Regions from separate parts of the Homo sapiens genome. Here regions 2, 3, 4 and 5 are each linked to region 1. Evidence: fine-mapped expression QTL. A gene starts in region 1. Each other region holds a variant in brackets. All regions are shown on one strand. Distances are between the middles of the regions.

What was found.
Region 2: its variant is fine-mapped to the expression of ZCWPW1 in whole blood (TOPMed, PIP 0.99).
Region 3: its variant is fine-mapped to the expression of ZCWPW1 in whole blood (INTERVAL, PIP above 0.99).
Region 4: its variant is fine-mapped to the expression of ZCWPW1 in amygdala (GTEx, PIP 0.95).
Region 5: its variant is fine-mapped to the expression of ZCWPW1 in whole blood (INTERVAL, PIP 0.97).

What each region holds. Positions count from the first base shown.
Region 1 is chr7:100,425,775-100,430,874 of GRCh38, reverse strand. ZCWPW1 (zinc finger CW-type and PWWP domain containing 1) reads left to right here and starts at 2,172. Exons shown (of 18, transcript NM_001386010.1): 1 at 2,172-2,307. It overlaps MEPCE (methylphosphate capping enzyme), which reads right to left and starts at 1,044. Exons shown (of 4, transcript NM_019606.6): 1 at 1-1,044. The coding sequence starts at 856. RefSeq lists enhancers at 145-224, 1,095-1,234, 2,255-2,484 and silencers at 355-824, 2,645-2,694.
Region 2 is chr7:100,571,668-100,576,767 of GRCh38, reverse strand. It overlaps SAP25 (Sin3A associated protein 25), which reads left to right and starts at 2,868. Exons shown (of 6, transcript NM_001348680.2): 1 at 2,868-3,171; 2 at 3,368-3,471; 3 at 3,556-3,662; 4 at 3,755-3,908; 5 at 4,017-4,114; 6 at 4,197-4,540. The coding sequence starts at 3,026. The coding sequence ends at 4,481. It overlaps LRCH4 (leucine rich repeats and calponin homology domain containing 4), which reads left to right. Exons shown (of 18, transcript NM_002319.5): 14 at 1-74; 15 at 445-530; 16 at 760-897; 17 at 986-1,063; 18 at 1,464-2,757. The coding sequence ends at 1,661. RefSeq lists enhancers at 896-1,449, 1,450-2,004, 4,936-5,100. The variant C/T (reference allele first, on the strand shown) is at 2,733.
Region 3 is chr7:99,852,031-99,857,130 of GRCh38, reverse strand. It overlaps CYP3A43 (cytochrome P450 family 3 subfamily A member 43), which reads right to left. Exons shown (of 13, transcript NM_057095.3): 8 at 1,413-1,540; 9 at 232-298. Among named protein-coding and RNA genes, the nearest start is that of OR2AE1, 22 kb to the left of the region's middle. The variant G/A (reference allele first, on the strand shown) is at 2,396.
Region 4 is chr7:100,748,841-100,753,940 of GRCh38, reverse strand. ZAN (zonadhesin) reads right to left here. Exons shown (of 48, transcript NM_003386.3): 12 at 3,045-3,316; 13 at 2,675-2,759; 14 at 712-2,229. Among named protein-coding and RNA genes, the nearest start is that of ZAN, 18 kb to the right of the region's middle. The variant C/G (reference allele first, on the strand shown) is at 2,604.
Region 5 is chr7:100,503,024-100,508,123 of GRCh38, reverse strand. No RefSeq gene overlaps it. Among named protein-coding and RNA genes, the nearest start is that of NYAP1, 22 kb to the right of the region's middle. The variant T/C (reference allele first, on the strand shown) is at 2,570.

The sequences.
Region 1 (5,100 bases):
GCGGCACGGGGTGACTCTCACTCCCTCCGGCTGCCTGCTGCTGCTGGTGGTGCTGTCCCCGGTGTCTATGCCGCTTCCGACCAGTCTTGAGTGGCGAAGCAAGAACTACATGGCCCTCATCAGTGCAAGTATTGAGACTGAGCGGGTCAGTAATATCTTTGGGGATGAGGATCTCCACCGGATCTCGCCCTTTGGCCGGAAGGGGGGATGACTTAGGGGTCTCCGCGTTGAGAGTGCGGCTCACTTCCTCATCCAGGAGGCTATTCAGGTTCAGGGGATCAAAGATATTGCCCCCCAGGAGGAAGTTGGAGGGTAACACAGAGTCACAGTCCGAATTCACCCGCCTGCGCCTCTTGAAGGCCGGATGTTTGAAGCCTCCCCCGCCTCCCCCTACATTACAGCTATTTCTCCTCTTGCCCCCGCCCCCCCCAGGTGGCCGGTGGGGCTGATAGCCATTGCGGGGTCGAGGAGGAGCAGGGGGACCCAGCTCTGTCCCGCCCCCTCCCCGGCGCTCCTCCCCCACGTCCGGGGGAGCGGCTCGCCCCGGGGGATCCGACAGGCGGGCCTCCCCATGCGACTGCGCCTGGGGGCCGCCCCCTCGGTGCTGCTGCGCCTGGGGACCACTGGAGGAGGTGGCCGCGGCCCCGGGGCTTTCCCGACCGACCGCAGCGGCTGGGGACCCCGCAGATGGCGCGCAACGACCCGGACCACGCTCCGTCCCGCCGCGGAGCTCCCCAGAGGCGGCCTCTTGGTGCGGTGGCACCGTGGGGCCGCCCCCTCCGCCCGACTCATCTTTGAGCGGCGGCGGCGGGGCCGGCACCAGAAACGGCTCCTTCTCCGCCGCCATCTCGATCATTTCCTCCCCTTATTCCGTGCCAGTCGGGGTAACGAGGGGGATCAGGGGGCCTAACCCCCCCTGCCTGGACCCTGCTCCCTTCCCCCCTTTCCCGAGTGCGCGCGCAGCTCTGCTCTTCACGCCTAGTCTCGCGCCCAAGCGCCTCCCCGCCAAGTGCGCCCTACTAGCCCGCGAGACCAAAACAAGAGGCCCGCGAGACCCGAACTACTCGAGGACTCAACCGCGCGTGCGCCGACCCCTTTCTCCTCCGCCACTACCACCCGGCCGCGAGCGCGCACGGTGAGCGCGCGTTCCCTTCGCCCGGGAACCACGCATGCGCACTCCGCCACCACCCTGGTTGCGCGCGCATCAGACTACGAACCAACTTAACGGCTCTGGGAGTTTAAATATAACCCCCCCACAGCCCCCGCAAAAGCCCACCACCCCAAACTGACACCCTACTTCCCTGCGCAGCTATGTCCGGCCCTACTGATCTCCTTTGTCTCTGCCGCGCGATCCCACCCACCGTAGGCGGGGGACGGGAGCTGGTGTGAAAAGGTCTCCTTGACACCCGACCCTTGTTCCTGAGGAATGAGTCTCAGCGGTCTCCGCCCGGCTCTAAATCCAACAACCTCCCCACCCCGCCTCCTTCCTCCCCCCTAGTGGGCAGCGCCTGCGCACACCCTTTTGGGCTTGCGCGGGTAGAGGCAGCACGTGCTGAAACTGGCGCCCCGCCCCCCGTCTTAGGGGTTGGGCCTGTGACGTCGCTTCCTTAAGTTTGGTAAACGCAGCGTGCGTCAGCGCGATCCGGAGGGGCGGGGCTTCCTGACGAAGGGCGGGGCTCATGAATTATTCATGAGCTGTTGGTAGCAAACCTCCCCCCCTCTGCCCACCTTCTTAGAAGCGCTTCCGAGGGAGCGGAGGGGAGACCCTACAAAGCCAAGGAAGGGCGGGAGTGGAACTGGGCTCAGTAAAACGCGATAGGTCATTATAACTCACCCCCCTTGAAAATATTCTCTGCTGAATTGGGGAAAAATAAAAAGCACTAAAACAGCCGATGTTGTCCAACTTCCTCTTCCCCCGAAACGGCTGAGTCGTTCTCTGGCTCCTCTACCTTCCCCCAATCGCAATCACCTGGAGACGCCACACCACGCCTTCCTCTCCGCCTCAACACCCACGACCCGAACCCCAACGCATCCGCCCACTCCCGACGCCCGCTCACTGGCCCGTCAGTTCGCGGGCCTCTCAACACCCACCGCGGCGCCACGCCGACTTATATACCAGCGAGTGTGGGCGGGGACGGGGGTTCGGTCCGCGCTGGGCCCCCCCAGCTTCTGCCAATGAGGAAGAAGCGAGTCTACGCCGTTTTCCCGGGGAGATGCGCCGCCCGGTCTCCCTGCCAGCGGAGTGCTGGGCCGAGGACAGGGCGGCAGGGGTGACAGTGGGGTCCAGGAGAGTCTCAAAATCCTAAGGTGAGGGCGTGAAGGAGACCAGCAGGAAGAGGAGGAATTAGAGAACGGAAAGAGGGAGGAAAAGGCAGTCTGAAACAGAAAAGTTAGTAGATGTGCTTCAGGAACAATCAGGCGCCGCGGCCGCCGCCTAAAAATATGTGACACCAAAGAGGATTCTGGGATTTGTAGTTTTCCCGGGACGTTCGGGTGGAAGATGGCGGATTTACCTCAGCTGCGGAAACGCAGACGCTGTTTCCAGTTGCGCATGCGCCTCGGCCCCGCGAGCGCACCGCCCTCGGGTGGAGCTAGTGCTCAGGGCGTCCTCGTGCCTTTTCTTGGTGGCGGGAAACCTGGGTTGAGGTGTGAGGGGCTTGCGGAGTCGCTGCGGCAGCTGGTTCCGCCCATCGCCTTTAGGTCCTCCTTGCTCCTGAAGGTAGCCAGCTAGTTTCTGGTTGTAGGTGAAGGTGCTAGGCGCTGCCAGTCCTGGCACCCGTTGCCTGAGGAGAAACTTTCTCAGGGCGACAACCAGCCCTTCGCCCTTTTTCCTCAGAATCTGTCGCCCCCAAGAAACAGACAAAAAAAAAATAGCCCAGTCTCCTGGCGGGCACCAACGATATGAGTGAGAATAAGGATCACGGGGCCTCGGCAGGAGTGGGGGTGGAGGGGAGATTCCCTCATGGTGGGAGGAAGGAAGGGAGGGGACGGGGAAGAGAGAGGGGGACGTGTGGCTCAGGGACACCGACTTGAACCGCTATCCCTGAGAGAGAATAAGGGGTGAGGGAAGAGAGGAAAAATGGGAGCGCCCCACAAATGGGAAGAACTTCTCTGCAAAACTTCTTCCCTTTGGATTGCAGGTGGATTTGGAATTGGGGCTTTTTTTTTTTTTTTTTTAAAGACTGTCTCGCTCTGTCGCCCAGGCTGGAGTGCAGTGGCGCAGTCTCGGCTCACTGCAACCCCCACCTCCTGGGTTCAAGCGATTCCCCTGCCTCAGCCTCCCGAGGAGCTGGGACTACAGGCGCCCGCCACTGTGCCCGGCTAATTTTGTATTTTTAGTAGAGACGGGGTTTCTCCATGTTGGCCAGGCTGGTCTCGAACTCCTGACCTTAGGTGATCCGCCCACCTTGGCCTCCCAAAATGCTGGGATTACAGGCACGCGCCACCGTGCTCGGCTGATTTTTTTGTATTTTTAGTAGAGACGGGGTTTCACCGTATTGGCCAGGCTGGTCCCGAACTCCTGACTTAAGGTGATCCACCCGCCTCTTCTTTCTTGTTAAAAGTTTTAAATCGGGCTTGCTGAGCTTGTGCACAAACACGAAGGAAGAAAGCAAGGGAGGGAAGGGGGAGGAAGGAAGGAGGGAGGGAAGGGGGAGGAAGGAAGGAGGGAGGGAAGGGGGAGGAAGGAAGGAGGGAGGGAAGGAGAAGAGAGAGAGGGAGGGAGGAAAGGGAGGAGGGAGGGAGGAGGGGGAGGAAAGGGGAGGGAGGGAAGGAGAAGAGAGAGAGGGAGGGAAGGAGAAGAGAGAGGGAGGGAAGGATAAGAGAGGGAGGGAGGAAAGGGGAGGGAGGGAGGAGGGGGAGGAAACGGGAGGGAGGGAAGGAGAAGAGAGGGAGGGAGGAAAGGGGGAAGGGAGGAGGGGGAGGAAAGGGGAGGGAGGAGGGGGAGGGAGAAGGGAGGGAGGGAGAGGAAGGAAGAAGGAGGGGAAGCAGGGAAGGGAGGAGGGGGAGGGGGGTAGGAAGGAGAGGGGGAGGAAAGGGAAGGAGGAGGGGGAGAAAGGAGAGGGGGAGGAGGGAGGGAAGAGGGAGAGAGAAAGGGAGGAGGGCAAGGAAGGAGGGGGAGGGAGAGAAGGAGGGGGAGGAAGGGATGGAGGGACAAAGGGAGACAGAAGGAGGGAAGAAGGAAGAGAGGGAGGGAAGAGGGAGGAAGGAGTAAAGGAGGGAGAGAGGGAGGGAGAAAAAGTGAGAGGGAGGGAGGAAACTGCTATTAGTTAATTGAGGCATGAAAATAAGCAGGAGTCCACATACTGTTATTAATGCAAAAAGGAAGATCAGACTCTGGCTTAAAAAAGATTTGAAATATACTTTTTTTTTTTTTTTTTTTTGAGACAGAGTCTCACTCATTTTGCCCAGGCTGGAGTGCAGTAGCACGGTCTTGGCTCACTGCAACCTCCACCTCCTGGGTTCAAGTGATTCTCCTGCTTCAGCCTCCCAAGTAGCTGAGATTACAGGCGCCTGCCACCACGCTGGCTAATTTTTGTATTTTAGTAGAGATGGGGCTTCACCATGTTGGTCAGGCTGGTCTTGAACTCCTGACCTTAGGTGATCCACCTGCCTTGGCCTCCCAAAGTGCTGGAATTACAGGCGTGAGCCACTGCGCCCGGCTGAAATATACTCTTTAAATACCGCTTTTTTGAGGCTCAGGGAGTCTGGGTTAGAGGACAATGCTAAAGGGTTTACTTCTCTTAGACCAAGGATTTGAGGAACAATATAAGGAAGGGAATGATTGGATGGTTAGGAAGAGGAAATTTGGGAACACATTCTGAATGGTGTGTGGGGAGAGAGAATTACTGTTTATTTAAAAAAGTATTGGCAATACTGACAAGTTATTTCACTAGGTCAGTTCTCAAACTTTTTGGTTTGAGAACCCTTTTATACCCTTAAAATTTATGGAGGACTCCAAAGAGCTTTTATTTGGTTTGTATCTGTTGATACTAACATTTTAGAAATTAAAATTCAGAAACATTTAAAGTTTGATTAGAAATAACAATAATAAATATGTTAACCTAAACAGGTTTTTATGAAAAATACATTCTCCTAAAC
Region 2 (5,100 bases), 150 kb before region 1:
TGCTCCACGGCCACTTGGCTCCATTCAGAGACCAAACAGCTTCCTCTTCCGTTCCTCCTCTCAGAGTGGCTCAGGTGGGTGTCCTGCCCTCCCCAGTGCTGACCCAGTGCTTGCCAGCACCAACGGCTACATCACCCTTCTGCCCTGGGAGCCCTCTGGGTCTGTTGTACCTTTTGTACCTTTGCGTTGAAAATCCCACAAGCAAGCCGGGTGTGGTGGCTCACACCTGTAATCGCAGCACTTTAGGAGGCCCAGGTGGGAGGATCGCTTGAGCCCAGGAATTCAAGACCAGCCTGGGCAACATAGCGAGACCCCATCTCCATGAAATAAAAAAAAATCCCACAAGCAGAGAGGCAGGAGGTGTAGGTGCCAGGCCACTGGGACCCAGCTACAGAGTCAGTGGTGAGCAGTGGAGGCAGCCCCATGCCCCCCTTTTTCTCCTAGGCCCTTCCTCACCAGACTCTGTCCTGAGACCTCGGCGGTACCCCCAGGTTCCAGATGAGAAGGACTTAATGACTCAGCTGCGCCAGGTGAGCAGAGGCGGGAGCTGCGTGGGCAGGGGCCTGGGCCGGGCACCTCCTTGTGTTGCTGTCCTTGGGACCAGCCTCCCTCCACATCCTCTGTGCCCACTCTGGCACCTCCCCTGAGGACAGGAAGGGACAGGCACAAGTTCCCTGCTAGCCCTGAGCCCCCCACTCTCCCTGCCTCCCAGACGCCTCTCCTTCCCTGACCCCTGCTCTATGTGGTCTACACTGCCAGGTCCTTGAGTCCCGGCTGCAGCGGCCCCTGCCTGAGGACCTGGCCGAGGCTCTGGCCAGTGGGGTCATCCTGTGCCAGCTGGCCAACCAGCTACGGCCGCGCTCCGTGCCCTTCATCCATGTGCCCTCCCCTGCTGTGGTCAGTTGGGGCTGGGGAAGAGGTGGGGGATGGGCCGGGGCGCCTGTGGCCTCTCCCTTACCACATTTTCTTCTTTCACCCACCCCAGCCAAAACTCAGTGCCCTCAAGGCTCGGAAGAATGTGGAGAGTTTTCTAGAAGCCTGTCGAAAAATGGGGGTGCCTGAGGTATGGGGGCTGCTTTCTAAAGAGTGGTGGCATGCCGGACTCAGCCGAGCATGTGGCATGGATGGTGGGCTTCCATTTGCAGCGGATGTCTGCTCTCAGATGAAGGCACAGGCTGCCCCTGCCCTGCCCAGCATGCCCCCTGCCCTGCATGCCCCCTGCCCTGCATGTCACCTGTCCTACACATCCCCTGCCCTGCAGGCCCCATCTTGTCCTGCATGTCACCTGTCCTGCACATGCCCTGCCCTGCACTCCTCCTGCACTGCACTCCCCCTGCCCAGCACGTCAGCATGTGGGCGTGGTTCTGGCCCCAGCACGTGAGGGCAGGGGTGGGAGGGACTGTCCTGCTGCTGCTGCTGACGTCTGTCCCTTGTCCTTGTCCACCTGCTCTCCTCTCCCCCAGGCTGACCTGTGCTCGCCCTCGGATCTCCTCCAGGGCACTGCCCGGGGGCTGCGGACCGCGCTGGAGGCCGTGAAGCGGGTGGGGGGCAAGGCCCTACCGCCCCTCTGGCCCCCCTCTGGTCTGGGCGGCTTCGTCGTCTTCTACGTGGTCCTCATGCTGCTGCTCTATGTCACCTACACTCGGCTCCTGGGTTCCTAGGCCCCAAAATCGGCCCTCCCTCACCCCTTTCCCTTCCTCTCTATTTATAAGGTCCCTGCTCCACCCGACCCCACCTGCGGTGCCTTCAGCCCCAACCAAAGACACTAGTGCACCCCCTTCACAGACACTGACCTCAGAGGCCCCACTCTGGTGCCCCCAGACCCTGGGCCCCCAGCCTCTGGCCTCCCTCCAGTAGCCCCACGAGTCCCCACCTCTCAGTGCTGACGGTGCCTTCATGTCCCCGCCGGCCCTGCCCCTGCCCTCTGTACCCCGTGAGGGGTGGCAGGAGCTGGAGTCTCCCCCTTCCTCCTGTGCCCTCCCCTTCCCCCCCCAACAGCTGCTATGGGGGGGCTAAATTATCTCTATTTTGTAGAGAGGATCTATATTTGTAGGGGTTCGGGGCCCAGGCCGGGTCCCTATCTCTGTGTATAAACTGTACAGACCGTGGCCGCCCTGCCTGTGTGTGTGTGTGTGCGCGCGCGCGCGCGTCTGCTCCGCGTGTTGGTGGCTGTGGCCATGGCTCTGTGCCCACCAGCATCTCCCTCCTGAGATGCCGGCCTCTCATGCTCCCGGAGCGTCCGCCAACCCCCCGTGTCACCTCCCTTCTGTTATCGCTGACAGCTTTCTTGCGTCTCATTTGTCGCCGAGCCCCGAGCGCACGGTGATGCTCGGGTCTGCCCCCGACCCCCTGCCACAGGCCGGAAGCCGCAGGGGGCACCGTGGGGAAGCTAACCCGGCCCCTTCCCCCAGGAGTCACTGTGCCAGCCCCACCACATCCTGGAAGAGGAGGGGGCCCCGGGAAGGGGCCTCCCCTACATCGCTGCTGTCGTCCACGCCCTGCTGGACCGGCCTTAGGGGTGAAGGTGGGGGCACAGGGCCCACCCCGCCCGGGACCCCGGGAGCAGAAGACGCGCCTGGGCTCCGCGCTCTCAGAGAAGCACGTGGTGAGGGTGGCCTGGGCCTGGGCACCCTTGGCCTGCCGGCCTGGCTGCCTCTGGGGTCGAGGGTCTGGGTGGAAGGACCGCGGGTGTCGCAGGTGTCGTGTCAGCCGCAATAAACAGAAGCCAGAAG[C/T]CCTCTGGGTGGCCCTCAGGTGTAACTGTGTCTGAGAGCACGTGCGTCGCGGGGTTGTTGGGGGGGCCTCTGTTTCCGGAATTCACCGCCCAGTCGCCAGGGGGCGCCCGCGGGAGCCCGGCGGGGGCACGCGCCACGTGGCCGGGAGACGCACAGGGCGCCAGCGTCGCCGCGAGGCCTCTGGGGTGGGTTCGCCAGGAGGGCACGTTCGCGCCGCGCCGCGGAGGGAGGCTGAGAGGGCCGGGCCGGGCGGCGGGGACACGGCGGTACCGTCCTGCGCTCGGGAACGCGGAATGTTGCCCTGGTCGCCGCCGCGGTGGGGCGCGGGCCCGGAGGAGGCGCCCGAGGGACCAGGCCTTCCGGCGGGCAAGGACCAGGGCGAGCCCTGGAGCGCCGGAGCGGACGCCCCCAGGGAGCTGGGGACACCCCCATGGGACAGGTGAGGGGCTCGGACGGAGCCGTGGGGGGACAGCGACTGGGGGCCTCCATGCCTTCACCACGCGCTCTACGGAGGCTTCTCCATTGTCCCTGCTGGAGATTGGGTCCCTCGGTCTCCCTTGCACCAGGCACCCTTGGGCTCCAGGGGAGGGTGCGTGGGGGCGGTGTGGCTGCAGCCTCAGTCCCTGCCCCTCCAGCCCACAGCCCCCATCCCGTAGCCCTTCCTGGATCTGGAGAGAGCAGCTGCTGCTGCCCCACCACCTGCCAGGCCCGGCCACTGAGCAGCCCCCCGGAGCCCCAGGTAGGACAGGCCCTGCTGCCTCTACTACCCCTAAGAGCCTCTCACTGACTGTGAGCCTGTTATAATCCCCAAGCGTCCCCCCAGATCCCCGTTCCCCCCAGGTGGCCTGGGAGGTGGCCCCCTCGAGGATGACTCCACTAGCGCCCTGGGACCCCAAGTATGAAGCCAAAGCAGGACCTCGGCCGGTGTGGGTGAGTTGGGGGCAAACCTGTGGGACTGGCTGGGGTGCTCAGGGAGCTGTGCGGTGGCCTGAGGCTCCAGTGCTCTGTCCTCCTCACCCTAGGGGGCCAACTGTAGCTCAGGAGCCTCGTTCTCAGGCCGGACGCTGTGTCACCCCTCATTCTGGCCGCTGTATGAAGCAGCCTCGGGCAGGGGTCTCAGGCCCGTGGCCCCTGCCACAGGGCACTGGAATGGACAGCAGGCGCCCCCAGATGCAGGTACCTCCCTTGGTCCCCCGGGGGCGCAAGGCTGCCCCAACTCCTCTGGGAACCAGTGCCCAGGGGTGGGAGCCCGCAGCCCGCCACCCTAGTGGTGTTTCCTCCTAGGGTTCCCGGTGGTGTGCTGTGAAGATGTCTTCCTCTCGGACCCTCTGCTGCCCCGGGGGCAGCGTGTTCCCCTGTACCTGTCCAAGGCCCCCCAGCAGGTGAGAGCTCTTTCCCCTCCCTGTCCTTACCCCAGCCTCCAGGCTTGCCTGGCAGGAAACACATTCCATTCTCTCTCCTCAGATGATGGGCTCCCTGAAACTGCTGCCGCCGCCCCCCATCATGTCTGCCAGGGTGCTCCCCCGCCCATCACCCTCCCGGGGCCCCTCCACTGCCTGGCTCAGCGGGCCGGAGCTGATCGCTCTCACTGGCCTGCTGCAGATGAGCCAGGGGGAGCCTAGGCCCAGCTCCTCCGCGGTTGGCCCCCCAGACCATACCTCTGACCCACCCAGCCCCTGTGGTAGCCCCAGCAGTTCTCAGGGTGCTGACCTCTCTCTCCCACAGACCCCAGACACCCATTGTCCATAGCCTTCTCAGGGCAGAGTGGGCTGGTTGTGTTGACAATAAAACAGTGTTGGTTTGCAAAACAGGCTCCGTGTGGCTGGGAGCAGAGTAAGTCATAGAGGCAGGAATGGGGTCTCTTTCTGTCTCACTGCAGATCACCCCCTGCTGTGTTAGGCGGAGGGCGAGGGTATCCATGACCTAAGGCATTTCTGGGCTGACTGGGCAGAGCCCCTTTAATGAGTGGGTGGGTGGTCTGCATGGCAGTGCAGGGCTGAATGTATAGGAAGCAGGCGGGGGAGTAAGTAGGGGCACCTCACTTTTAGGGGACACTAGCCCCACACCTCTTGTGCTGGGGCTCCAGGAGTTCAGTTCTGGGCTGGGTGGGGTAGTTGTCTGGCTCAGAGGAGACACAAAGAATGCACTGCAGGTGTGTGGGGGAGGGTGCCGGTCCATGTAAATGTCACCACTGGCAGAAAGGTGGCCCTGCCGCAGCCTACCTGAGACTCTAGAGATTCTTGCACGAACTCTGTAGAGAAACAGGATCAGGGTTTCAGCTGAGAAAGCCCAGAAGTGTGTAGTCTCGGTGGTTTGGGCGGGGATAGGTTCTAGAATTTTCTCCCATAAAATAGCCCAACTTCTTGGA
Region 3 (5,100 bases), 570 kb after region 1:
ACCTCCGGGAGTGCCACACTTGTTCAGGGTTGCCCTTCAAGCCTGGAATGTGGCTATGCCTGTGTGCTTCTAGAAAGTGCCTCCAGCTATCATTTATAACATCCAAATGTGTGCCTTTCTGCAATGTGGAAGAAATTCTCATTTTCCTGGAAAACTTTCTGCACATTTTCAGAACAGGGCCTTCTCTCTGAGTGTCCCCATCAGTAGCCCCCAGATGCAGTTCTTGGTTACCTTTATGGGACTTTGTTTCTTTGGAATTCTGGGAGTCGATCATCTGTTGAAAGAAATCTACTCGATGCTGGAAGCAAAAAGAGAAATTTTAATGACAGAAAGTCACTTGTGAAGTCAGAAGTGAATCAGGAGTCCAGTCCTAAGCACCCCTCCTGAGAATATGCTCTCTTTAAGTTCAGAAGTGTAATGGGTGTTGCCTGAGTCACCAATGTTTAGAATAAAATCATGCATCTAAAACCTTGGAGAGCAGGATGTTTCCTTGAGAGAAATCCTTTTGTCATGTCTATCTGCTTTTTAGTCTTTGCTCTCCCTGATCCTCAGCTTCTCTGGCCTTTGGACACAACTTCCTGGCCAAAGAGTTGTCAGCTCATTCTCTAGTCATAATTTCTTGAACAGGAAGAAGTCCTGAATTTCAATCCTATTTGTTCTGCTGCTTTTATTCTTAACCAATGGACAAATAGATTAATCTCTGGATAATCCCAGGGGAGCTGATTTGAATGCATCTTCAAATACTCCCCACTCCTAGAACTCTATACAACGTTCAGTGTCACCTAGGGGACCCAGTCCTGCATTCCTGACTTTGAGGCATCATCATCGGGCTGGTCTCCAGGGCTCATAAAGGCAAAGTTGGATCAGTCAGCTTGCACCCACAATGCCCAGAGAAGACCCCTGCCCAGTCCAGGCTATGACAGGACTGAAATTTAACATACACTTACTTCTGCAGGTAGCCTGGTAGGGACTCCTGCTGAAGAAGGTGTAAAAATAACAGGCTTGGACTTGAAATGATTCCTTACTAATATAAGAACTAGGGAAATTGTAATACCCATAAAATAATTTTATCAGTCATTTTTATCCAGTCAGATTTATTGGCAACTTTATACAGTCAAATTTATTGACAATTTACTGAAAGGAAGAGAAGCGGTAAAGCTTCTATCTCTACATTATTTATGCCATAATATACTAAAGTCATGCCTATTATTAAATTCCAAATGCTGTTTCACTCATTCTCTTTCTTCCCCAAGCTTCACCTTCTTTATTCCCAGCAAAATGTAAAAACCCTCTTGGTCTAAAGTTCTCTAGCTGCCTTTAAAAAACACAGATAAGTGCACAAATCGTATGTAAACAGCCCAAAAATATAATAAAAAAGTGAACATTCTCATGTCACCACCACCAGATTTTACCTTTTGTTTATCTTTGAGGCGACTTTCTTTCATCCTTTCAATGGAATTTTTTAAAAAATGGGTAACATCTTTTGGAAACAAACCGATATTTAGGGCTTCAAAAACTGGGGTAAGAAATGGAAAGAGTGCTATAGGAAAATTAAATAGAAAAAGAAAAAATAAATCATAGTGAAAAATGTGAAATTTACCTACAACAATTACAATTTTCTCTACCTATAGACTTCAGGGTTCTCAACCAGGATCCATTTCCTGTATGACCTTTGCCCCTCTTCCTGTATGACCTTTGCCCCTCTTCCATGCCAATGGCTGAGCAAGAGCAGATCCACACATAGGGGCCTCCACTATAGCAGTGAGATCAGTGGTCCCTTCTGCATCTTCAGAGTGACCAAAGGAACAGAATTAAATTCCCTGACTTCTTAGCCTTTATCTACTGGACTAGAGTCTCTTTGGATAGCCTGCTGCTTTAATGAATCATGTTTTTCCATGAAATAGTAGTCAGGATAGAAACAATACGGCAAATGTCCTTCAACTACCATGGAATGAAACTAGAAATCAATAAAAGCAAGAGAATTGCACTTAGGGAGGCTGAGGCAGGCAGATTGCTTGAGGTCAGGAGTTTGAGACCAGCCTGACCAACATGGCGGAACCCCATCTCTACTGATACAAAAATTAGCCGGGCATGGTGGCATGTGCCTGTAGTCCCAGCTACTTGGGACCCAGTCATGAGAATCGCTTGAACCAGGGAGGCGCAAGTTGCAGTGAGCTGAGATTGTGCCACTGTACTCCAGCCTGAGTGACAGAATGAAAATGTCTCTCGAAAGAAAAAAAAAAAGAGAGAGAGAGAAAAGAGAATTGGAAAACTCACAAATATGTGGAAGTTAAACAATACACTTTTAAGTAACCAATGAGCTGAAGTAGAAAGCAAAAGGACAATTAGAAATTGTTTTGAGATGAAGAAAAATGAAGACATGATATGCCAAAGC[G/A]TATGGGATGTAGCCAAAGCAATGTTCAGAGGGAAATTTATAGTTGTGAATGTCAGATAATCTCAAATCAATAACCTAAATGTATACCATAACACACTGAAAAATGAAGAGCAAAGTAAAACTAAAGCCAGCAGAAAGGGGGAAAATAATAAAAACTAAAGTGTAACCTAATGAAATACAGATTTAAAAGCAATAAAGAAAACCAAAAATTGGTTCCTTGAAAATATCATCAGCCGGGCGCGGTGGCTCACGCCTGTAATCCTAGCACTTTGGGAGGCTGAGGCGGGTGGATCACCTGAGGTGAGGAGTTAGACCAGCCTGACCAACATGGCAAAACCCCGTCCCTACTAAAAATGCAAAAGTTAGCTGGGCATGGTGGTGGACACTTGTAATCCCAGCTACTCAGGAGGGTGAGAAAGGAGAATTGCTTAAACCCGGGAGGCAGAGGTTTCAGTGAGCCTAGATCACGCAACTTTTTTGAGACTCTGTCTCAAAAAAAAAAAAAAATTATCAAAACTCAAAACTCATGGACATAGAGAGTAGAAGGATGGTGACCAGACTCTGGGAAGGGTAGTGGGGGCGGGGGAGGTAAGGATAATAAAAGGTTACAAAAAATAGTTAGAAAGAATGAATAAGACCTATGGTTTGATAGCACAACAGAGTGACTACAGTCAATAATAACTGTACATTTTAAAATCATTTAGAGTGCAATTGGAATGTCTGCAATTCAATGGATAAATGCTTGAGGGGATGGATTCCCCATTCTCCATAATGCTCTTATTTCACATTTCATGCCTGTATCAAAACCATCTCGTGTACCCCATAAATGCATACACCAACTGTGTATCCACAAAAGTTAAAAATAAAAAATAAAGCTCAAGGCTGGGCGCGGTGGCTCACGCCTATAATCCCAGCACTTTGGGAGGCCGAGGCAGGTGGATCACCTGAGGTCAGGAATTCGAGACCAGCTTGACCAACAGTAAAAACCTTGTCTTTACTAAAAATACAAAAATTAGCCGGGCATAGTATTGCATGCCTGTAGTCCCAACTACTCTGGAGGCTGAGGCAGGAGAATAGCTTGACCCCAGGAGGTGGAGGTTGCAGTGAGCCAACATCGTGCCATTGCACTCCAGCCTGAGCGGCAAGAGCAAAAGTCCATCTCAAAAAAAAAGCTCAAATTTTACCACAAAAGAAAATATCATCAAAATTGGCAAACTTTTAGCTACATTGATGAAGAAATAAGAGATGACTCAGTTTACTAGTCTCAGAAATAAAAGAAGGGAAATAATTACTATTGACATTTAAGAAAAATAAAAATTAGCATAAGGATATTCTCTTAACAATTTTATTATTAGAACAATTGTATAAATTAGATAACAGGTAAAATGGATAAATTCTTTGAAAGACACAAACTACAGAAACTGAGTTGGAAAGAAACAGACAATCTGAATAGATCTATAACATATAAAGGCATTGAATCAGTAATCAAAACTACCCACAAAGAAAAGGCCAGGCCAGATAGTTCCAATAATGAATTCTACCTAATATTTAAAGGAGAATTAATATCCATTCTACAAACACTTTCAAAAACTAGGAAATGAGGGAACATTTCCAAATTCATTCTATAAGGCCAGTATTACCATCATATTAAAACTGGAAAAATATATCACAGGATAAAGAAACTACAGACTAACATATCTTGTAAATATAAATGCACAAATCCTTAACAAAATACTAGCAAACTGGATCAATCTAGCAACATATAAAAATAATTATATACCATAACCAAGAGGGGTTTACCCCAGGGAAACAAGGTTGTGTAATATACCATGTCAATTAAATGAAAACACACAATCGTCTCAGTATGAGTAAAAGCATTTGACAAAAATCCAAAAGACTTTTGTGATAAAAACACTCAGCAACTAAAAATAGAAGAGAATTCTTCCACCTGATACAGGGCATCTATGAAACCCATAGCTAACCATACTTAGTACCTTTCCCCCTAAGATCATGAATGAGACAAGGATACCTCTCTCAGCACTTCTATTTACCTATTAAAACTAACAAATGTGTTCAGAAATATTTGAAGATAGAAGGTCAATATACAGAAATAAACTGTATTTCTGTACGTTACAATATACAATCCAAAAGTGGAATTAAAAAATTGTATTTACCATAACATCAAAATATTAGTGATACACTTATCAGGAATAACATTAACAAAAGTGCAAAACCCAGACTCTGAAAAATACAAAACACTGTTGAAATAAATGAAAGAGTATCTAAATAAAAGGAATCACCACCCCGTGTTCACAGATTAGAAAACTTAAAAAGGTCAAAATGGCAATACTTCTCAAATGGATCTGCAGATTTAATGTATTATCAGAATCCTAGCTAGATTCTTTGTAGAAATTGACAAGTTGATTTTAAAATTGATTTGGAATTGTAAGGGATGCAGAGTAGCCAGAACAATGTTGAAAAAGAATCAAGTTGCAGGACTCATACTTCCCAATTTCAAAACTTACCACAAAGCTCTAATAATCAGGACAATGTGATACTGGCATAAAGATAGAAGTATAGTTCAACAGAATAGAATTTACAGTCCAGAATACATCCACATGTCTCTGGTCCACTGAATTTTGAGGAAGGTGTCATGATCATTGAATGGGGACAAAATCGTCTTTTCAACAAATGGTCCTAGGACA
Region 4 (5,100 bases), 320 kb before region 1:
TGGAGTGATGAAAGTGTTTGGATTAGAAAGTGATGATGGTTGCACAACCTTAGGAATATACTAAAACCCACAGAATTGCTTTTGCTTTTTTTTTTTTTTTTTTTTTTTAGGACGATGTCTTGCTCTGTTGCCCAAGCTGAAGTGCAGTGACACAATCATGGCTCACTACAGCCTCAGCCTCCTAGGCTCAAGTGATCCTCCCACCTCAGCCTCCCGAGTAGCTGGGACTACAGGCGTGCGCCACCACACCCAGCTAATTTTTTTTTTTTTTTAATTTTAAAGTGGAGACAGGGTCTCACTATGTTGCCTAGGCTGGTCTCAAACTCCTGAGCTCAAGCAACCCTCTCGCCTTGGCCCCCCAAAGTGCTGGGATTACAGGTTTGAGCTACCGTGCCCGGCCTAGAATTGTACACTTTAAAAGGGTGAATTTTATGAAATATGGATTATATCTCAATAACAAACAACGAGAAGGAAGCCTCGTGGTTCAGTCCTGACACCCCCACCCACTCCAGCCCTGCCATCCCTCTCGCTCTGGGCAGTCCTCCCCATTTCCTCTGAAGTCGCCATGGACTACTTCAGCTCTCCTCTGAGAGTACTAGAAGCATCTAGAAGCAACTAGAAGGCTTCTACCAGAAGCATCCCTTTCCCTGACTGTCTCCTAGTCATTGTCTCTGACTTTCAGCCTTGGCCCACGCTCCATCCACCTCATACCTGTACTGGATCTGGAGGTTGTGGTAGTGCCCAGAATCACACTGGTCATAGGGGTACTTGGAGCATGTGGAGACATCACCAAGGCTGCCAGCCCAGTGGCTGTGGGGCTGGGATGGGGTGGCCTCAGGGCTGTGAGCTTCTCTGTGGGAATGGTGGGTTTTTCTGTGGGGATGGTGGGTTTTTCCGTGGGGATGGTAAGTTTTTCCGTGGGGATGGTGGGTTTTTCCGTGGAGATGGTGGGTTTTTCTGTGGGGATGGTGAGTTTTTCTGGGGAGATGGTGGGTTTTTCTGTGGGGATGGTGAGTTTTTCTGTGGAGATGGTAGTCTCTTCAGTGGGGATGGTGGGTTTTTCCGTGGGGATGGTGGGTTTTTCCGTGGAGATGGTGGGTTTTTCTGGGGAGATGGTGGGTTTTTCTGTGGGGATGGTGAGTTTTTCTGTGGAGATGGTAGTCTCTTCAATGGGGATGGTGGGTTTTTCCGTGGGGATGGTGAGTTTTTCCGTGGGGATGGTGAGTTTTTCTGGGGAGATGGTGGGTTTTTCTGTGGGGATGGTGGGTTTTTCTGTGGAGATGGTGGGTTTTTCCATGGGGATGGTGAGTTTTTCTGTAGAGATGGTAGTCTCTTCAACAGAGGTGGTGGTTTCTTCAGTGGGGAGAGTGGGTTTTTCCATGGGGATGCTGGGTTTTTCTGTGGAGATGGTGGTCTCCTCAGTGGGGGTGGTGGGCTCTTCTGTGGAGATGGTGGGTTTTTCTGTGGGAATGGTGGGTTTTTCTGTGGGGATGGTGGGTTTTTCTGTGGGGATGGTGAGTTTTTCTGGGGAGATGGTGGGTTTTTCTGTGGGGGTGGTGGGTTTTTCTGGGGAGATGGTGGGTTTTTCTGTGGGGATGGTGGGTTTTTCTGTGGGGGTGGTGGGTTTTTCTGGGGAGATGGTGGATTTTTCTGTGGGGATGGTGGGTTTTTCTGTGGGGATGGTGGGTTTTTCTGGGGAGATGGTGGGTTTTTCTGTGGAGATGATAGTCTCTTCCATGGAGATGGTGGGTTTTTCCGTGGGGATGCTGGGTTTTTCTGTAGGGATGCTGGGTTTTTCTGTAGGGATGACAGGCTCTTCCATGGAGGTGGTGGTCTCCTCAGTGGGGGTGGTGGGCTCTTCTGTGGGGACGGTGGGTTTTTCTGTGGAAATGGTGGGTTTTTCTGAGGGAATGGTGGGTTTTTCTGAGGGAATGGTGGGTTTTTCTGTGAGGATGGTGGGTTTTTCTGAGGGAATGGTGGGTTTTTCTGAGGGCATGTTGGGTTTTTCTGAAGGAATGGTGGGTTTTTCTGTGGAGATGGTGGGTTTTTCTGTGGGAATGGTGGGCTTTTCTTTGGGGACTGTGGGCTTTTCTGTGGTGACACTGGGTTTTTCTATGGAAACTGTAGGTTTCTTGGTGGAGATTGTAGGGTTTTCTGTGAGGCCAGTGGTTTCAGAAGGGCCAGTGGAAGAAACTGGAGATACGGGAGGAAGCTCTGGTAGCACTTTTACTGCAAAGAAAAATAAGAATCCCTGGAGTTTAGTCAAAACCATACCACCACCCTCTTTACTGCCATCTAACTGGAGTGGGCTCCCATGGGTGGCTTATTCACACCTCTCTTTCTACTCCCAAACCCCAACCTTCATCCACTCAACGAACACTAATATATGTCAGATATTATGCCAGAAATGAATAGGATATGGGTCCAGCCTTCAAGACTGCAGAGGAAGGAGTTCTGGATCCAGCCCCCAAAATCCATGGTATCGAAGCCACATTCACCCAGGCAAACATCTTGAAGTGCAGGGGAAGGAGAGGTGTGTTGAAGATGGAAAACAAAGCCAGCTGGGTGAGAATTCGGGCTCCAGGGAGGACTCACATTTTAAG[C/G]AGTTCATAGAGAGAACTCCAGGGAACCTCAGGGCACCGCCCCCTTCCTGGAGCCTGGGCTTTGGTCTTACCTGGACAAGTCCCAGGATTGATCAAGATGAAACCCATAGCAACCACAGAGGCCGTGTTGCTTCCCTGGATGCCCTTGAAAATAAGCTAAAGGCGACAAGGGAGAGAGACGGAGAGAGAAACAAAAATGAATCTCCAGCAACTCTGTGATTCCACTGGGCATAGAATCTGTTCTCTGCCAAAATGTCGCCTTGTTCCAGCCTCAACAGTCCAGCCCCATCCCGGCCCCTTTCTCACTTTCTGTAACACGAAGTTCCCCTTTTCTCGGCTCTCTTTCCAGCTTTCCACCTCTTCAGCACTGGTGGCGCCCCCAGATCCCAGGCATTGGCCCTCTCACCTCACACAGACAGGACCCCCGCCTCCGTCTCTCACCTGCATGGGCTGTTGGTGTCCTGAGGGGACGGTGACGGAGGTGTTCTGCCAGTAAGGGCGCTGAGACCCCACGCGTTTCCAGAGAGGAATCGGGGGACTCCCCGCAGGACTTCCCAGGAGGAGTTCGAGCATAGTACCCTCCCCAAGGCCATACATGTGGTATGCGAACTCCACGCAGATGTCACCTGGGGCGCAGAAGGGCCGGCTCACCAGTCTGACTGACTGGCCTGCCTGGGAGAACTCGTCAGCCTCAAGGTAGATATAGTGACCCCCTAGGCAAAGGAAGGGAACAGGCAAGGTAAGAAGCCTGCACAGGACATGCCAACTGCTGCTTTAGCAAAGCTTTGCTTTCTGAACGGGAATCTGAGCAAACACTCAAATTTCCCAGGTCGTAGCATTATTTTTTCTGCTCATTTTAGACATCTAACTAAAGAAGGTGGGATCACAAAGAAAGGGAAAAGCGGCCAGGCACGGTGGCTCATGCCTGTAATCCCAGCACTTTGGGAGGCCGAGGCTGGCGGATCACGAGGTCAAGAGATCAAGGCCATCCTGGCCAACATGGTGAAACCCCGTCTCCACTAAAAATACAAAAATTAGCTGGGCGTGGTGGCCCGTGCCTGGAGTCCCAGCTACTCGGGAGTCTGAGGCAGGAGAATTGCTTGAACTCCGGAGGTGGAGGTTGCAGTGAGCCAAGATCACGTCACTGCACTCCAGCCTGGCAACAGAGCAAGACTCCATCTCAAAAAAGAAAAAAAGGGAATAACAAACCAGCAACCTAGATTACATTCATTAATGTCGTGTGTGTGTGTGTGTGTGTGTGTGTGTGTGTGTGTGTGTTGTTTTTTTGAGATGGAGTCTCGCTCTGTTGCCCAGGCTGGAGTGCAGTGACACGATCTCAGCTCACTACAACCTCCACCTCCCAGGTTCAAGCGATTGTCCTGCCTCAGCCTCCCAAGTAGCTGGGATTACAGGTGTGTACCACCATGTCTGGCTAATTTTTGTGTTTTTAGTAGAGGTGGGGTTTCACCATGTTGGCCAGGCTAGTCTTGAACTTTCGGCCTCAAGTGATCCACCCGTCTCAGCCTCCCAAAGCATTGGGATTACAGGTGTGAGCCACTGCACCCCACCCTCATTATTGTCTTTTTAAAAAATTATTTCTTTATATATATATATGTGTGTGTGTGTATATATATATGTGTGTATATATATGTGTGTGTGTGTATATATATATATATATATATATATTTTTTTTTTTTTGAGACGGAGTCTCACTCTGTCACCCAGGCTGGAGTACAATGGCGTGATCTCGGCTCACTGCAAGCTCTGCCTCCCGGGCTCACGCCATTCTCCTGCCTCAGCCTCCCGAGTAGCTGGGACTACAGGCGCCCACCACCATGCCTGGCTAATTTTTTGTGTTTTTAGTAGGGACGGGGTTTCACCGTGTTAGCCAGGATGGTCTCGATCTCCTGACCTTGTGATCCGCCCTCCTTGGCCTCCCAAAGTGCTGGGATTACAGGTGTGAGCCACTGCGCCCAGCCTCTTTTTATATATTTTTAAGACAGAATCTTACTCTGTTGCCCCGGATGGAGTGCAGTGGTGCGATCTCAGCTCACTGCAGTCTCCACCTCCTGGGGTCAGGCAGTTCTCCTGCCTCAGCCTCCTGAGTAGCTGGGACTACAGGTGCACGCCACCACTCCCGGCTAATTTTTACATTTTTTTTAGTGGAGTCAGGGTTTCACTATGTTGCCCAGCTGGTCTCGAACTCCTGACCTCAAGTGATCCACCTGCCTCGGCCTCCCAAAGTGCTGGAATTAAAGGCGTGAGCCACCATGCCTGGCCTATTTTTTTATTTTTAATTTTTAGAGACAAGGTCTTGCTCTGTTGCCCAGGCTGGAGTGCACTGGTTCAATCATAGCTCACTGCAGCCTTGACTTCTGAGCTGAAGCGATCCTCCCACATCAGCCTCGCAAGTAGGTGGGACCACAAGCACACACCACCACATCTAGCTAATTAAAAAAAAATTTTTTTTTCTAGAGATGGGGTTCTCACTATGTTG
Region 5 (5,100 bases), 77 kb before region 1:
CTGGAGTGCAGGGGCGCGAGCTCAGCTCACCACAACCTCTGCCTCCTGGCTTCAAGCAATTCTCCTGCCTCAGCTTCCCGAGTAGCTGGGATTACAGCCATGTGCCACCACGCCCAGATAATTTTGTATTTTTAGTAGAGATGGGGTTTCTCCATGTTGGTCAGGCTAGTCTCGAACTCCCAACCTCAGGTGATTCGCCTACCTTCACCTCAGGTGATTCACCCTCCCAAAGTGCTGGGATTACAGGCGTGAGCCACCACACCCAGCCTGTTCTTTGCATTTTAAATTAAGGGGCAGGGCACATCAAACTATTTAATATGTGCAATGAACAATAAAATATATCCTTAGGATTTATATGGGGCAATTATAGAGCAAAGATACAGGAAGAGATCGATGTCAGGAGACAGTGTGATGGAGAAACAAAGGACAGAAGGAAAGAGAGGGGAAGAGATAGAAACAAATGCCAAGACCCAGGAAAACACAGAAAGACATAACCCAGCCTCATATAAACTCAAAGTGAGAAGGTGGAGAGACATAAAGAAATCCACAGGTGGCTGGGCGTGGTGGCTCACGCCTGTAATCCCAGCACTTTAGGAGGCCGAGGCGGTGGATCACCTGAGGTCAGGAGTTCGAGACCAGCCTCGCTAACATGGAGAAACTCCGTCTCTACTAAAAATACAAAAAGTAGGCGTAGTGGCACATGCCTGTAATCCCAGCTACTCCAGAGGCTGAGGCAGGATAATTGCTTGAACCCGGGAGGTGGAGGTTGCAGTGAGCTGAGATTGGGTCACTGCACCGCAGCTTGGGCGACACAGCGAGACTCCATCGCAAAAAAAGAAAAAAGAAAGAAATCCATGGGCTATGGAAGTATGTACGCTCACTCAGGCACACACCACCAAGCGTGATGAAGACCCAAGTCTACATAGATAGCACCTCACACTTTTGTTAAATAGCACAGAATTAAAGAATTATCCCAGCCTGGACAACATGGCAAAACCCTGTCTCTATCAAAAGTACAAAAATTAGCCAGGTGTGGTGGTGCGCGATGTAGTCCCAGCTACTTGGGAGGCTGAGGTGGGAGGATCTCCTGAACCCAGCAGGCTGAGGTTGCAGTGAGCCATGATCACACCACCGCACTCCAGCTTGGGCAACAGAGTGAGACCCTGTCTTACAAAAAAAAGAAAAAAAAAAAAAGAAAAGAAAGAAAAGGAAAGGAAAGGAAAAGAAAAGAAAAAATGATTGTTGAGGTAGGAGGCAAGACTCAACTCCAGAGGCAGGGCACGGACACCAGACCAAATTGAGGACCAACTAAAAATGGGTTGGGACAGAAGCAGCTTTCCATAAAGACATCCCTTCCAGAGTGCCATGTCAGTTTACCGTTGCCATGACAACACCCAGAAGTTATCTCCCCTTTCCATGGCAACCACCTACCGACCTGGAAGTTACCACCCTCATCCTAGACATTTCTGCATAAGCCACCCCTTAATTTGCATATAATTAAAAATGGGCATAAATGAGTTTAGGTCTGCCTCTCAGCTGCTATTCTGGACACAGTGCCTATGGGTCATCCCTGCTCTGCAAGGAGCCGTACCTTTGCTGCGGCTGTGCACTGAAGCTTCAATAAAAGTTGTAACACTGGCTGGACACGAGTGCTCAAACCTATAATCCCAGCACTTTGGGAGGTGGAGGTGGGCGGATCACTTTAGCTCAGGAGTTCAAGACCAACCTGGGCAACATGGTGAAACCTCGACTCTACAAAGTACAAAACATATTAGCCAGGCATGGTGGTGTGTGCCTGTAGTCCCAGCTTCTCAGAAGACAGGGGTGAAGGATTGCTTGAGCCCAGGAGGCAAAAGTTTCAGTGAGACTTGATCATGCCACTGCACTCCAGCCTGGGTGACAGAGTGAGACCCTACCTCCAAAAAAAAAAAAAAGTCTTGTTCTACCAGCTAATTGGATTGGCAGGGACCTCCTTTTTAATATATATATATAGGTATGTGCCACCGCACCTGGCTAATTTTTGTTTTTCTTTTTTTTTTTTTTTGAGATGGAGTCTCGCTCTGTTGCCCAGGCTGGAGTGCAGTGGCGTGATCTCGGCTCACTGCAAGTGGGTTCATGCCATTTTCCTGCCTCAGCCTCCCGAGTAGCTAGGACTACAGGCGCCTGCCACCATGCCCGGCTAATTTTTTTTTTTTTTTTTTTTTTTTGTATTTTTGGTAGAGACAGGGTTTCATGTGCTAGCCAGGATGGTCTCGATCTCCTGATCTCGTGATCCACTCACCTTGACCTCCCAAAGTGCTGGGATTACAGGTGTGAGCCACCGGGCCTGGCCTAATTTTTGTATTTTTAGTAGAGATGGGGTTTTGCCATGTTGCCCAGGCTGGTCTTGAACTCCTGGGCTCAAGTGATTCACCTGCCTCGGCCTCCCAAAGTGTTGGGATTACAGGCGTGAGCCGCCACGCCAGGCCTCATGAGTTTCTTATGTAGCTGTATCAAACTTGTTTCTCTTTTGAACTGTGATTACAGTTCCAGTGTTCATATGTTGCCCTGCAAGTAGGTTATAAGTGCA[T/C]GGGGGACAGGAACCAAGCCTTATCTACTGAAGAATCTTCCTCGGGCCCAGCTTCCAGGGAGGCTCTGAATTTGAAGCCCCTCTCTGCCATTCACTTGCTGTGTGACTTTGGGCAGGTTACTTGACCTCTCTGTGTGTCAGAGCTTTTATCTTCAGAGATACCACTGGGTTGAATGACATAAAATTGCCAATATTCTATTATATTTGACCCCAAAATGGCAATTTCATATAGTTCAACCTAATAAAACCACTACCTCTTAGGTATTTTGAGGGTTAATTGTCATGTCTATTGTACCCCAGGCAAGCACCATCCTGCTGAGTACAAAGTGGACCTGATAGTAAAGCCCCTCAGACTTTGTGGAACAAAAGCAGAACCCTAGGAACGGCAGAGCAACCAGTTAGAAAGAGCCTGGCTCCTGATGAACTGCAGCTTCCGTATCTGTTATGGATTGCTAATGTCTGGACCCTTATATGAGCAAGATGTAATCCCCCATTTAGGTTAAACCACTGTTCTTTGGGTCTGGGTTTTTTGTTTGTTTGTTTTTTCTTTGAGACGGAGTCTCGCTCTGTCTCCTCAGCTGGAGCGCAGTGGCGTGATCTTGGCTCACTGCAATCTCCGCCTCCTAGGTTCAAGCGATTCTCCTGCCTCAGCCTCCCCAAGTAGCTGGGACTAAAGGCGCCCACCACCACGCCCAGCTAATTTTTGTGTTTTTAGTAGAGATGAGGTTTCGCCATGTTGACCAGGCTGGTCTCAAACTCCTGAACTCAAGTGATCTGCCCCTCTTGGCCTCCCTAAGTGCTGGGATTACAGGTGTGAGCAACCATGCTCAGCCTGGGTCTGTTTTGAAAGAGGTAAACTGACATCTTAATTAATAATGGGTGTGTGTCAGAGAGAAATAAACCATGTACTTCCACATAGAGATTTCTGCCTTAAGGCCGGGCACAGTGGCTCACACCTGTAATCCCAGCACTTTGGGAGGCCAAGGCGGAAGGATTATCTGAGGTCAGAAGTTCCAGACCAGCCTGTACAACATGACGAAACCCCGTCTCCACTAAAAATACAAAAATTAGCCAGGCATGGTGGCGCGCGCATGTAATCCCAGCTACTCGGAAGGCTGAGGCAGGAGAATCACTTCAACCTGGGAGGCGGAGGTTGCAGTGAGCCAAGATTGCACCACTGTATTCCAGCCTGGGTGACAGAGCAAGACTCCATCTCAAAAAAAAAAAAAAAAAGTTTCTGCCTTGGGAGACTGAATGTGATGACACTGGCTGAGATGGTCAGTCCAAGACATGAGGGCTGGTTGGGGAAGTAATGAGTTCAATTGCAGATAGATTTTTGTTTTTGTTTTTAGAGACAGGGTGTCTGCAGATAGATTTTTGTTTTTGTTTTTAGAGACAGGGTGTCTCGCTCTGTTGCCCAAGGTGGAGTGCAGTGGTGTGATCATAGCTTACTGCAGCCTTGAAATCCTGGGCTCAAGCGATCCTCCCACCTCAGCCTCCTGAGTAGCTGGGACTACAGGCATGTGCCACCACGGCTGGCTAATTATTATTTTTTATTTTTTGCAGAGACGGGGGTCTCTCTATGTTGCCCGAGCCAGTCTCGAACTCCTGGCCTCAAGTGATCCATCTGCCTCAACACCCTAAAGTGCTGGCACTATAGGCATGAGCCACGGCACCCAGCCACTGTAAGCCTTTTTGCTTCACCTAGCCACCAATCTAAATGGGGGGAAGTGTTCTCCATTTTTTTAGATTTTCATATCTGTAAGTAGACCAACCATGACAGCTTTACGACCCAAATACAAGGCTACATTTGATGTTACTAGCGAGCAAAATAACTTCAGATCTACATGGGCAGTGAAATAAATAGTGCGCATCTTTAAAATTTCCCCTCTAGTTCTAATCTTTTCAGGTTTCCCCCTCATTACTCTGAAATTTCTGGAATGTGTACATGTTGCTCTCACACCCATTCCTGGGCTTTAAGGCAGGAACATCAAAAAACATCAGCATGAGGTCACCACTTGGTCAGTGGAAAATTTTTTTTTTTTTTCTGAGATGGAGTTTCGCCCTGTTGCCTAGGCTGGAGTGCAGTGGCGTAATCTCAGTTCACTGCAACCTCCACCTCCCGGGTTCAAGCAATTCTCCTGCCTCAGCCTTCCAAGTAGCTGGGATTACAGGAGCGTGCCAGCATGCCCAGCTAATTTTTTGTATTTAGTAGAGTTGGGGTTTTGCCATGTTGGCCAAGCTGGTCTGAAACTCCTGACCTCATGATCTGCCCCCCTTGGCCTCCTAAAGTGCTGAGATTACAGGCATGAGCCACCGCGCCCGGCGGGTCAGTGGAAATTTTTTTAAATGGTGGTGACACCATCTCTGGTGCTTCCACCCTGTGGCTCCTGGCTCCCAGCCATTTTTCATGGTGGCAAAGACTGCCCCCAGGGTGGTGGCAGAGGTCAGTGTGTGGCCTGGACGAGTCCCAGCCAACATGCTCCTCACCCCATCCTGGACGCAACGTGGAGGTGGTAGAGAGAGAGGAG